Homo sapiens: one gene and its partners. The protein of the gene in region 2 purifies or fractionates together with the protein of the main gene of each other region. This does not show direct contact. Each region holds a gene or a part of one and is shown on either strand. Other genes may lie near its edges. The genes, in order: PTPRF, AP1S1 and MYRF.

The links.
Region 1: the proteins of AP1S1 (region 2) and PTPRF fractionate together in Homo sapiens (co-fractionation; one large-scale study listed by BioGRID). This does not show direct contact.
Region 3: the proteins of AP1S1 (region 2) and MYRF fractionate together in Homo sapiens (co-fractionation; one large-scale study listed by BioGRID). This does not show direct contact.

What each region holds. Positions count from the first base shown.
Region 1 is NC_000001.11:43,617,799-43,621,087, forward strand, and holds part of PTPRF (receptor-type tyrosine-protein phosphatase F isoform 1 precursor), read left to right. Parts: coding exon 1-113; intron 114-831; coding exon 832-951; intron 952-1,249; coding exon 1,250-1,404; intron 1,405-1,489; coding exon 1,490-1,775; intron 1,776-1,881; coding exon 1,882-2,060; intron 2,061-2,296; coding exon 2,297-2,423; intron 2,424-2,655; coding exon 2,656-2,781; intron 2,782-3,039; coding exon 3,040-3,194; intron 3,195-3,289. UniProt on the Homo sapiens protein: Possible cell adhesion receptor. It possesses an intrinsic protein tyrosine phosphatase activity (PTPase) and dephosphorylates EPHA2 regulating its activity.
Region 2 is NC_000007.14:101,152,854-101,156,600, forward strand, and holds the start of AP1S1 (AP-1 complex subunit sigma-1A), read left to right. Parts: upstream 1-1,622; 5' UTR 1,623-1,661; coding exon 1,662-1,664; intron 1,665-3,740; coding exon 3,741-3,747. UniProt on the Homo sapiens protein: Subunit of clathrin-associated adaptor protein complex 1 that plays a role in protein sorting in the late-Golgi/trans-Golgi network (TGN) and/or endosomes.
Region 3 is NC_000011.10:61,759,075-61,762,721, forward strand, and holds part of MYRF (myelin regulatory factor isoform 2 precursor), read left to right. Parts: intron 1-3,647.

The DNA of each region.
Region 1 (3,289 bases), on a different chromosome or scaffold from region 2:
ACATCGCCACGCAGGGCCCCCTGCCCGAGACCATGGGTGATTTCTGGAGGATGGTGTGGGAACAGCGCACGGCCACTGTGGTCATGATGACACGGCTGGAGGAGAAGTCCCGGGTGAGGCTGCAGGGCCCTGCCAGGAGGCGGGTGGGAAATGCCCAGCCACAAGGTGATACAGGGCACCTTCTTCTGTGCCGCTTTCTTCTGTGGAGGAAGTCGCTCAAGTGATCCCCAGATGCTATTGTTACTGGGGGTATTATGCTCCCCAAATACTGGGTGTTTCTGGGATACAGCATGTTCCCCACATGCTAGTGGGTTCCTTAAGATGTTAATATGTTTCACCAAATGCTGTCATTTTCGGAGAATGTTAATGTGTTCCCCAGTTGCTGGCGTGTTCCCGGGGTATTCATGTGTTCCCCAGATGCTGGAGTGTTCCTGGGGCATTAACACATCTCCTAAGTTAATTAGTGGAAAGAGCTGCTGTTATCTGTTTTTGGACTGCAAAGCATTGACTGGAACGTAAAATTTACAGAGCTTGAAAATGGCACATAAACGTTATGGGTAAATTTGGCAGAAAATGTGCCTGGTGCGATCTGGCGTTGAATAAATAATTTTCAATTATGACCCTTATTCCACTAGCTAGGGCAGGGCGGTGACATAGCTTGAGGACCTGATGTGGCTTGTGGAGGACAGGGGGCAATGGATCTGAGAGCTCAGGGCTGGGGGGCTTTGTAGCCAGAAAGGCTACAGCCAGGGAGTTGACCAGCCTCCACCCTGCTTCTGCCCGTCTGAGCCTGTGGGCTTCCTTCAGCCTGCCCTGCTCATCCTCCTGCAGGTAAAATGTGATCAGTACTGGCCAGCCCGTGGCACCGAGACCTGTGGCCTTATTCAGGTGACCCTGTTGGACACAGTGGAGCTGGCCACATACACTGTGCGCACCTTCGCACTCCACAAGGTATAGCCTTTCCCCAGTGCATATCTCTTACCCAGACACTGTAAGGACAGTGGCCTGGGTGTGGTGTGCTGGGTCGGGGGGAAGCTGGAGCCTGGGTGTTGGAGGGTCGGAGGCTCAGGTGTGTGAGTGATGTGATGATCCATGTTATGGGAACAGTGCTAGGAGCTTCAGGCTACTCTGTGTGGCTTCTGAGTCCCATGGGGAAGTGGCGGGTATGGCCTCAGCATCAGGTCATTCAGTCCTGAGTCTATGGCAGGTAGGCTCCTAGTCGCCAGTATGTCCCCACTTTGTCCCCCAGAGTGGCTCCAGTGAGAAGCGCGAGCTGCGTCAGTTTCAGTTCATGGCCTGGCCAGACCATGGAGTTCCTGAGTACCCAACTCCCATCCTGGCCTTCCTACGACGGGTCAAGGCCTGCAACCCCCTAGACGCAGGGCCCATGGTGGTGCACTGCAGGTGAGAGGGTACAGTGCCACCCAGAGGGGTGGGTGGGGTGGGAGGTGGGGGCGCCTGTGCCTCAAGCTGAGCCCGTGTCCTGCAGCGCGGGCGTGGGCCGCACCGGCTGCTTCATCGTGATTGATGCCATGTTGGAGCGGATGAAGCACGAGAAGACGGTGGACATCTATGGCCACGTGACCTGCATGCGATCACAGAGGAACTACATGGTGCAGACGGAGGACCAGTACGTGTTCATCCATGAGGCGCTGCTGGAGGCTGCCACGTGCGGCCACACAGAGGTGCCTGCCCGCAACCTGTATGCCCACATCCAGAAGCTGGGCCAAGTGCCTCCAGGGGAGAGTGTGACCGCCATGGAGCTCGAGTTCAAGGTGGGGCTCGGGTGGGCCTGCTTGGCTCCAGGGCCTAGACTGGGTCATGCAGATGACCCCCACCCCCACAGGAAGCCTGGCCTGACCAATCCCTGCCTCTCAATAGTTGCTGGCCAGCTCCAAGGCCCACACGTCCCGCTTCATCAGCGCCAACCTGCCCTGCAACAAGTTCAAGAACCGGCTGGTGAACATCATGCCCTACGAATTGACCCGTGTGTGTCTGCAGCCCATCCGTGGTGTGGAGGGCTCTGACTACATCAATGCCAGCTTCCTGGATGGTTATAGGTCAGCATGCATGTCACTGCCCCACCATGCCCTACAGGGGCCTAGGCCTGTGCCTGGCTGGTGGGGGTGGGCAGCAGAGTAGGGCCAGCCTAGAAGACCAGAGAGGGCTGGGTAGAGCAGTGAGGACTTCCTGGAGGAGGGGTGATCTGAGCAGGGCCCCAAGGGGCTAGGCAGCCTAAGGGGAGACTCTAGGGGCAGCAGCACCTCCAGCATGTCCAGTCTTATGTCCACCCCAGACAGCAGAAGGCCTACATAGCTACACAGGGGCCTCTGGCAGAGAGCACCGAGGACTTCTGGCGCATGCTATGGGAGCACAATTCCACCATCATCGTCATGCTGACCAAGCTTCGGGAGATGGGCAGGGTGAGCCCACCCTTTCCCCCAGGGCCCCTGTCATACCTGGGAGAACACCAGCCACCCTTGGGGGAGCTGCCGCCTATGTTACTGTCTCCTTTGACACCCCAGCTGCTTGTCAGCATGGCCTCAGGCGCCCGTTATTACTACCTGAGGCATCTGTCCCAGAATCCTGTGAAGCCTGGCACCCCTCCCCTATTCCTTCTCACCTGATTATGGGGGCCCGACCCTCTGTCCACAGGAGAAATGCCACCAGTACTGGCCAGCAGAGCGCTCTGCTCGCTACCAGTACTTTGTTGTTGACCCGATGGCTGAGTACAACATGCCCCAGTATATCCTGCGTGAGTTCAAGGTCACGGATGCCCGGGTGAGTGAGTGCATTGAGTGTGTCCATAACGCTGCCTGTCCACACGCTGGGTGGATGGCTGCCTGCATGGTACCTTAGCTCAAGCTTCAGAAATCTGAGGCGGTGGGTGGGTATTAGGGTGTGAGCACATCTCCCCCTGTGGCCTCGGGTGCAGTGACACAGATGCATGCCTGTATCATGGTACTACCCTGGTCTAGTCCAGAGGGGTGGCTGCCTAAGGCACGAATTCTAATCATGTACCCCACCCACCTTTCCCAGGATGGGCAGTCAAGGACAATCCGGCAGTTCCAGTTCACAGACTGGCCAGAGCAGGGCGTGCCCAAGACAGGCGAGGGATTCATTGACTTCATCGGGCAGGTGCATAAGACCAAGGAGCAGTTTGGACAGGATGGGCCTATCACGGTGCACTGCAGGTGGGACTGGCCCCCTGGAGGGCTGGGGTGGGTGGGCCTGAAGGCCTGGCAGACCCACTGCATGAGGCAAGCAGGACTCCTGACCCAACTGTGTT
Region 2 (3,747 bases):
CTTAGTTTAGTCTCTACAAAAACAAGACCCCTATATAAGAAAAACTTAAAGGTCAGGGGCGGTGGCTCATACCTGTAATCCCAACACTTTGGGAGGCTGAGGAGTGTGGATACCTTGAGTCCAGGAGTCCCAGACCAGCTTGGGTAGCATGACAATACCCTGTGTCTACAAAACATACAACTATTAGCTGGCTGTGGTGGTGCATGCCTGTAGTCCTAGCTACTTGGGAGACTGAAGTGGGAGGATCGCTTGAGCTCAGGAGGTGGAGGCTGCAGTGAACTATGATCATGCTACTACACTCCAGCCTGGGCAACAGAGTAAGACCCTGTCTCAAAAAAAGAAGAAAAAAAAAAAGAAAGAAAGAAAAGAAAAACTTAAGACAGTGTGTTCCTCTGTTTGCTTTCTGAGGACGCCCTACTCCGTAAGGGTGTAGCTTTCAATAAACTCTCTCTTCTCATCGCACTCTACGACTTGCTTTGGGTTCCTTCCTGCATGAGATCCAAGAATTCTCTCTTGGGGTCTGGATCGGGACCCCTTTTTCCAGTAACATGTAGACACACACACACATTCAGTTTAAAAGCCCATATTACAACGTACATCCACCTCATCTTCACACTGAGATTTGGGTGACATCTGTCCCTTTTTGAGTTTTGACCCAAGTTAACCTTTTAAGACGCTCTTTATTTCTTCCCCTTTTGCCTCAGTTCACGTTCCTCCCCCTTCTCCTTACATGCCTTTTATAGCAGCCTCTCCTTTTCTCTTTTATTCTTTTTCTACACATTTCTCTTACTGTAAAATCAGAAGCCAGGCGCGGTGGCTCACGCCTGTAATCCCAGCAGTTTGGGAAACCGAGGCGGGAGGGTCTCTTGAACCCAAGAGTTCGAGACCAGCCTGGGCAACATAGTAAGACCCCCGTCTCTACTAAAAAAAAATTAAAAATTAGCTGGGCATGACGGTGTGCGTCTGTAGTCCCAGCTACTCAGGAGGCTGAGGCGGGAGGATCGCTTGAGGCCAGGAGTTCAAGGCTGCAGAGAGTCACGATCCCACCACTGCACTCCAACCTGGGTGACGCGGCCAGACCCTGTCTCTAAAAAGAAAAAAACTAGAGGGGTGTATCTATCACGCTTTCAATAGATATTCAGCTTGGGTTCTATACTTTTCTCATGACCCTTTGTCTTTCTGTTTTCCAGGTCACTCCTCCTCCCCTACACTTAATTCCCACCCTGCTCCCTTTTCACGGCCCACTCCCCTTCCAGGAGTCCTGCCTGCTGCTTCGAACTCCAATGATCGTCCCATTCACCTCTCACCCCTTTTCCCGCCTTTTTGCCCCACAAGGCTCCAAAGCGCGAGGACCTTATTGTCCTCCTCCCCCATCCTCCAACCAGCCCACAGGACAGCCGCGTTACCATGACGACCGGGCTCCTAGAAGCTGCAGTCAAGGACCTGGTTGCCATGGTTTCCGCTTCTCCGCCTCCAGCCCCGCCCGCGCTCCCCGCGGCGTCGGCGCCTGCGCAGTGCGTGGCGCGCCGGGAGTCAGAGCCTGGGCGGGACGGGGCGGGGCTTCGGGCGAGAGGGAGGGCAGCAGGAGAAAGGATAAGAAAGGGAGTGGGACTGGCGCCTACGGTGGCCGAAGTGGGACGCGCCGAGCCGGAGGCTGCAGGATGGTAGGCTGTGCGAAGAGGGAGGGGAGGGGGAAGCGAGGGGCGTGGGCTGCACCTGCGGGGGTCCTCGGGGGCCGCCCTCGGGGTGAACCGCCCTGTCTTCCCTCTGGTCCTCAGAGGCCTCCCTTGCCTCGGCGGGTGGGCGAGCCGGGCTCGGGAGGAAGAGGGGGAGGTGGCATTCGGGAGAGGGGCGGGGAGGGGGCGCATTTGCAGGGCGAGCGGGGGCTGACGAAGGGGCGGCGGGGCCGTCCCGAGCCGGGAGGGGCGCTCTGGTCTTGGCCCCTGGGGTCCCTCGATCCCCGCTGCAGGGAAGCCGCCCGAAGCAGAGGGTTGCGGGAGTCTCTTTGCTGAGGGAGGGAGCGGGGGTCACCAGTCACCGAGACCCCCTTCCCGGGCTGCACAGGCGGGAGCGGGGACCCGGGTGGGGAGAGGGGTGTGGGAGGGGAGTTTCCGGGTCGGAAAAGGGAGCGCCCTACTGCGTTCGTGGCCGTGCTTGCCTAGAGGCTGGGCCCAGGTAGGGAAGCGAAGTGGACTCGTGGTTTTTCTCCGAGGGACCCAGGCTTTGGGATCCCGGGCTCCGGGGCTCTCTGCCCCCCTTCCCATTCTCTTTCCGGAATCCAGGCCTTCCGTCTTCCTGCTTGCTCCCCACCCCCCTATTTGAGCGCCGCACGAGGCTCCCCAGCGCCCCTCTTTTCCCCTCCACCAAAAAAATCAGTTCTCCTGAATTCTGATTTTTCACTTACTAAGCTAGTACAGTGCCACACACCCAGGGATTCCAAGCCTGGGCATGTCCATGAATAGAAGAGCTACTGGGGTAAGGAGAAGACTCCAGGATGTGGCCCAGACCCCCCGGAACTGGGAAGCTGGGGTACACTGGGCAGTGAGGGTTCTGTCTTCCATCCCACTTGACCCAGCTTGCTGTCTGTTCTGCAGACATTCTTTTAGGGGAACCCCCTGGGTGGCGGGGCCCTAACTGAGGGAAATTGGTCACCTGGTGTCTGGGGAGGAGTGGGCGCTTAGCAGGAGGCACCCTAAAAGGAAGAAAAGTTAAAGAGAAATGTCGAAGACCAAATGCCTGGGTGCCTGCAGAGAGGAAGATAGGATTTGGGCATCTGCATACCCTGTGTGGTGTTGGAGATACATACTACAGAGGAGGATACCCCTGGGCATAGGCCTGGCACTGGAGGATGATATGTTTGGGAGATCATTAAGATCTTATGGCTATGATGGGGTGGAAAATTGAGGTAGCTTCTCCAGGGACAAAATACCAGATTTCAGCATGGTGATGGATAGAGAGAGGGTGGAAGAGAACAGGCATTTCTTTGGCGTCGGTTACTGTCGTCTTGTCACTGTGCTAGGCATTTTACTTACCTTTAGAAAGCAGACCAGAAAGCAAGAGGTCAGGGAATCATGGTAATAATAGTAATAACTAACGGCCGGGCGCAGTGGCTCATGCCTTAATGCCAGCACTTTGGGAGGCCTAGGTGGGTGGATCACCTGAGGTCGGGAGTTCGAGACCAGGGCCTGGCCAACATGGTGAAACCACATCTCTACTAAAAATACAAATATTAGCCGGGCGTGATGGCACGTGACTGTAATCCCAGCTACTCAGGAGGCTGAGGCAGGAGAATCGCTGGAACTTGGGAGGCGGAGATTGCACTGAACAGTGATTGCGCCACTGCACTCCAGCCTGGGCGACAGAGAGAGACTCTGTCTCAAAAATAATAATAATAATAGCTAACATGTTATACTGCCTGCCTGTGCTAGGGACTTGCATATATCAAATCATTTAGTCTCACCTAACAACTGTGCAAGGCAGGTACAATGTCCATTTTACACATAAGGAAACTGAGGCCCAGAGACTTACAGTAGTAATTGGGCCAAGGCCTTGCATAACTAGTAGAGCCAGGATTTGAACCCAGCTGACAGACTCAGAAGCTCTGACTTCCCCCTGCTGGTGGAAACACCCAGCCTTGAGAGCAAGGGGCTGGATGTTGGAAGAAAGTAGAGAAGAATTAGCTGGAGATAAGTTTGGGGAATGTGTGGTTACCCTCGGTTCTGCCCTCCCATCCCCCACAGATGCGGT
Region 3 (3,647 bases), on a different chromosome or scaffold from region 2:
TGGGGCCACGCCGGTGTGTAGGCACAGATGGGCACAGGTGACCCTGGTGGAGACCTGTGTCCACCCCAAGCTGCAGGGTCTCTACCTGGCACCTGGTGGCCTGCCTGCCCTGGTCCCTGTGGGAGAGAGTAGGAACAGGTCGCAGCTGCTGGCCTCGGTGCTGTTGGACCTGGCTTTGGAGCATCTTGGGGCTGTGAGTTCAGCCTTATGTTGACCTGAGGACAGGGCGGCAGCTTCATGGGGACTTGGAGTGGATGTAGCCATAGCCCAAGGGTGGCTAAAGATTCTGGGTCTCCTAGAAGAGAGGGTTCTCCGGCTGGGCCAGTGGCTCATGCCTGTAATCCCAGCACTTTGGGAGGCCGAGGCAGGTGGATCACCTGAGGTCAGGAGTTCGAGACCAGCCTGGCCAACATAGTGAAATCCCGTCTCTACAAAAAATACAACAATTAGCCAGGCGTGGTGGCAGGCGCCTGTAGTCCCAGCTCCTTGGGAGGCTGAGGTGGGAGAATCACTTGAACTCAGGAGGCGGAAGTTGCAGTGAGCCAAGATTGTGCCACTGCACTCCAGCCTGGGCAACAGAGTGAAACTTTGTCTCAAAAAGAAAGGTAAAAAAAAAAGAGAGGGGTCTCTGTAGGCAGCCTGTGGGGGCTCTTCTGCATTTTTGGTAAGAAGCTGGGAGAGAACAAAGACTACTGTGACTCAGATCGAAGAACCTGATAGAAAAACGGCTCAAGAGCCCCATCTTTGTCAGGTGTGGCTGCTGGGCCCAAGCTAACTGAGATTTGATGCGGAGAGGCAAAGGGTTGCTTGCACAAGCAAACATCTGACCTGAAGGCATTTTGACTAAGACGGCTCTGGTCACAAGTTGAAGCCTGAAGCAGGGCAGCTAGCAGTTATAGATTTTTTTTTTTTGAGACAGAGTCTCACTCTGTCGCCCAGGCTGGAGTGTGGTGGCACGATCTCGGCTCACTGCAACCTCCGCCTCCCGGTTTCAAGTGATTCTCCTGCCTCAGCCTCCTGAGTAGCTGGGATTACAGGCACGTGCCACCATGCCTGGCTAATTTTTGTATTTTTAGGAGAGACAGCGTTTCACCATGTTGATCAAGCTGGTCTCGAACTCCTGACCTTGTGATCTGCCCACCTCGGCCTCCCAAAGTGCTGGGATTACAGGTGTGAGCCACCGCGCCTGGCCATAGATCATATTAATAAAGAGAGAAAGCCCAAACCAAAGGAGGTGAGGCCACTGTGCCTTGCCCCCATGTAAACTGGTTGGGAGATGAGCCACAGCACTGGGGGCCCTCTGTGACTGGGGCGATGGGGAGGGGCTGCCAGGGCAGGCAGGGAGGCAGTCGCAGAAGGCTGACCCACTGGAAGGGATGGCTGGGGCCGAGGCCCGGAGGCTGGACTGTGCTGTGCATGTGTAAGAATAGCAGCAGAGTGCTGACCATGCCTCAGAGGGACTTAGGAGAAGGTGAGGATGTCCCTCGGAGGCTCTGGAGCACGTGTGCAGCAAGGCGGAGGGGCCTGGGGGAGAGGGGACAGCCTGGGCGGAGGTGTGCAGGCAGGAAAGGAGATGGGAGTCCTAAGAGAGATGGAAACAGGGCGGTTCACCCTGACTGCGGAATGGCCTCCTGGGGGTCACCTCGTTTAAGGTTCACTCCATGGCAGGGATTCGTGCTCCATCTGATGGAGAAGGAAGCCAGGGCTCAGGTCACTTGCTGAGGGTCATAGCCATCAAGTGGGAAGTCCACATTAGAAACCAGGCCTCTTTGACTCTGGAGGTCTCTCTGGGCATCGTGGTTATGCCCAGGTGGGCTGTCCCTTGACTGCTACCACCCTGGCCCTCAGCTGCTGCCTGAAGCTAGGGCATCCTTCAGGTTCAGATGCTCTGAGAGGACACTCAGAGCAACTGGGGTTGTCGGAAATAGGCCTGGGCCCTGGTGTCCTCTGCACCCCAGGTTCAGATCCACCAAGCCTGGCCAGCATCCTCGGGCCCCGGCCCACCCTACCCACAGCCACGTGGCTGACGGGATTTCCGCCATGTTTGGGGCATGAATTGACAAGTGCCTCATTGACGGGGCAGGGGAGGGGGTGGGCAGGGCACAAGCCTCCCACTGTGCCGTGTCCCCACCCTCCCCCGTTCCCCGGGACAATGGCCGAGACTCAGCCAACGGCCACAGCTGGTGGGGGGGGGGGCACATAAGCACAAGGAGGGGCGGAAGGGAGGGGTCCTGGGTGGAGGGACCACCTGGGCCCCTGCCTGCTCTCATCCTGCACCTGGCTTGGGTGCCCTCCGTTCCTTTCCTGGCCAGCTGGGGTGGCCTTAAGGAGACGAGGAGAGAAGAGCGGAGCGGAGGGGAGGGGGCTGCCTTCCCATAGTCTGGATCGCAGCCTGCCTGGGAAGGGGCAGTGTCTGGTTCCTGTTCCAGGCAGGTAATAAAGGGCCTAATTAATGAGGAGCAGCTGAGGCACACAGCTCAGCAGGGCAGGGGCAGGACCTGGAGGGGCCCCAGGTAGCCCCGGCCCTGGCCACAGCATGGCCTGGCCGAGGTCCCTCACTGGCCACTTGGCTCATCCACTCCGTGAACATTTCCTGGGTGCCTGCTGTGTGCTGGGATACTATATCCCAGAGAGACAGAACAGGGCAGCGCTCATAGCCCAGTGCCTGCCCCTGTAAGCTATGGGCACATGCCCATCCTTTCTGAGCCTCAGTTTCCTCATCTATAAAATGAAGAAAAAGAAAATCACCTACCTTGTAGGTTGGGATGAGAATTCAATATGAGCCATGTAAAGTGCATGGCACAGGGCTGGGCACAGAGTGGCCACTGGGCGAGTGAGCTGTGGGTGGTGGGCGGGTGGTGGACAGACACTCATCCTGCCCAGCGGGGTGTGTGTAGGCGGGAAGGTAAAGAACTGATGAGGAATTACAACGCCCCTGCCCATCCCTTGCTAAACAGAATGGGAGAGTCAGAGATGGCCTCTTGGGGGAATTTACATTTAAGACAAAACCTAAAGCCTGAATAGGACCTGGCTTTCTCAGGCTTAGGGAACAGCATGGAATGGCATGTGTGAAGGCCTTGATGTGGGATGGAGGATGGAAAGGAGGCAAGGGCTGACCACGGAGAGGAGGGGAGGCAGGGGACCTGGGGAAGGAGAAAAGGCTGTCGGGGGCAGGCAGGGGACCATGTCAGGCCTTGGACTGCCAGAGGGCTCCGGGTGTCTCCCCAGCAGTGGGAAGTTGTTGAAGGGTTTGAGAAGGGAAGGACAGAGATGCTGGTTTGTGAGCTCATGGTGCTGTTTTCGGGTTATTGGGCCCTGGGCAGCCTCGGGCAGCCTCTGGCGGGCCCGGCTTCCCTTCTCTCAGAGAGGTCTTGAGGATCAGAACGAGCCATATGGCCCATGTTCCGCTTCCTGCCTGGCAGGTACCCCTGCTTGGGCTCCAGTGATGTTCTGGGGCTCTTTTGGGAGCAGTGGGGAGGGGCGCTCCCGAGAGTGTGCCCATGGGACCCTGCCCCTGTCCTGGGTTCTTGGGGGCTCTATCCCAGCTTCGGCAAGCCCCCACCCTTGTCTTGTCCACCTGGAAAGTCTGTTAGAAATCTCCAGTGTGGTTCACGGGCGGGCTGGGGGCCGAGCGGCGTGGGAAAGAG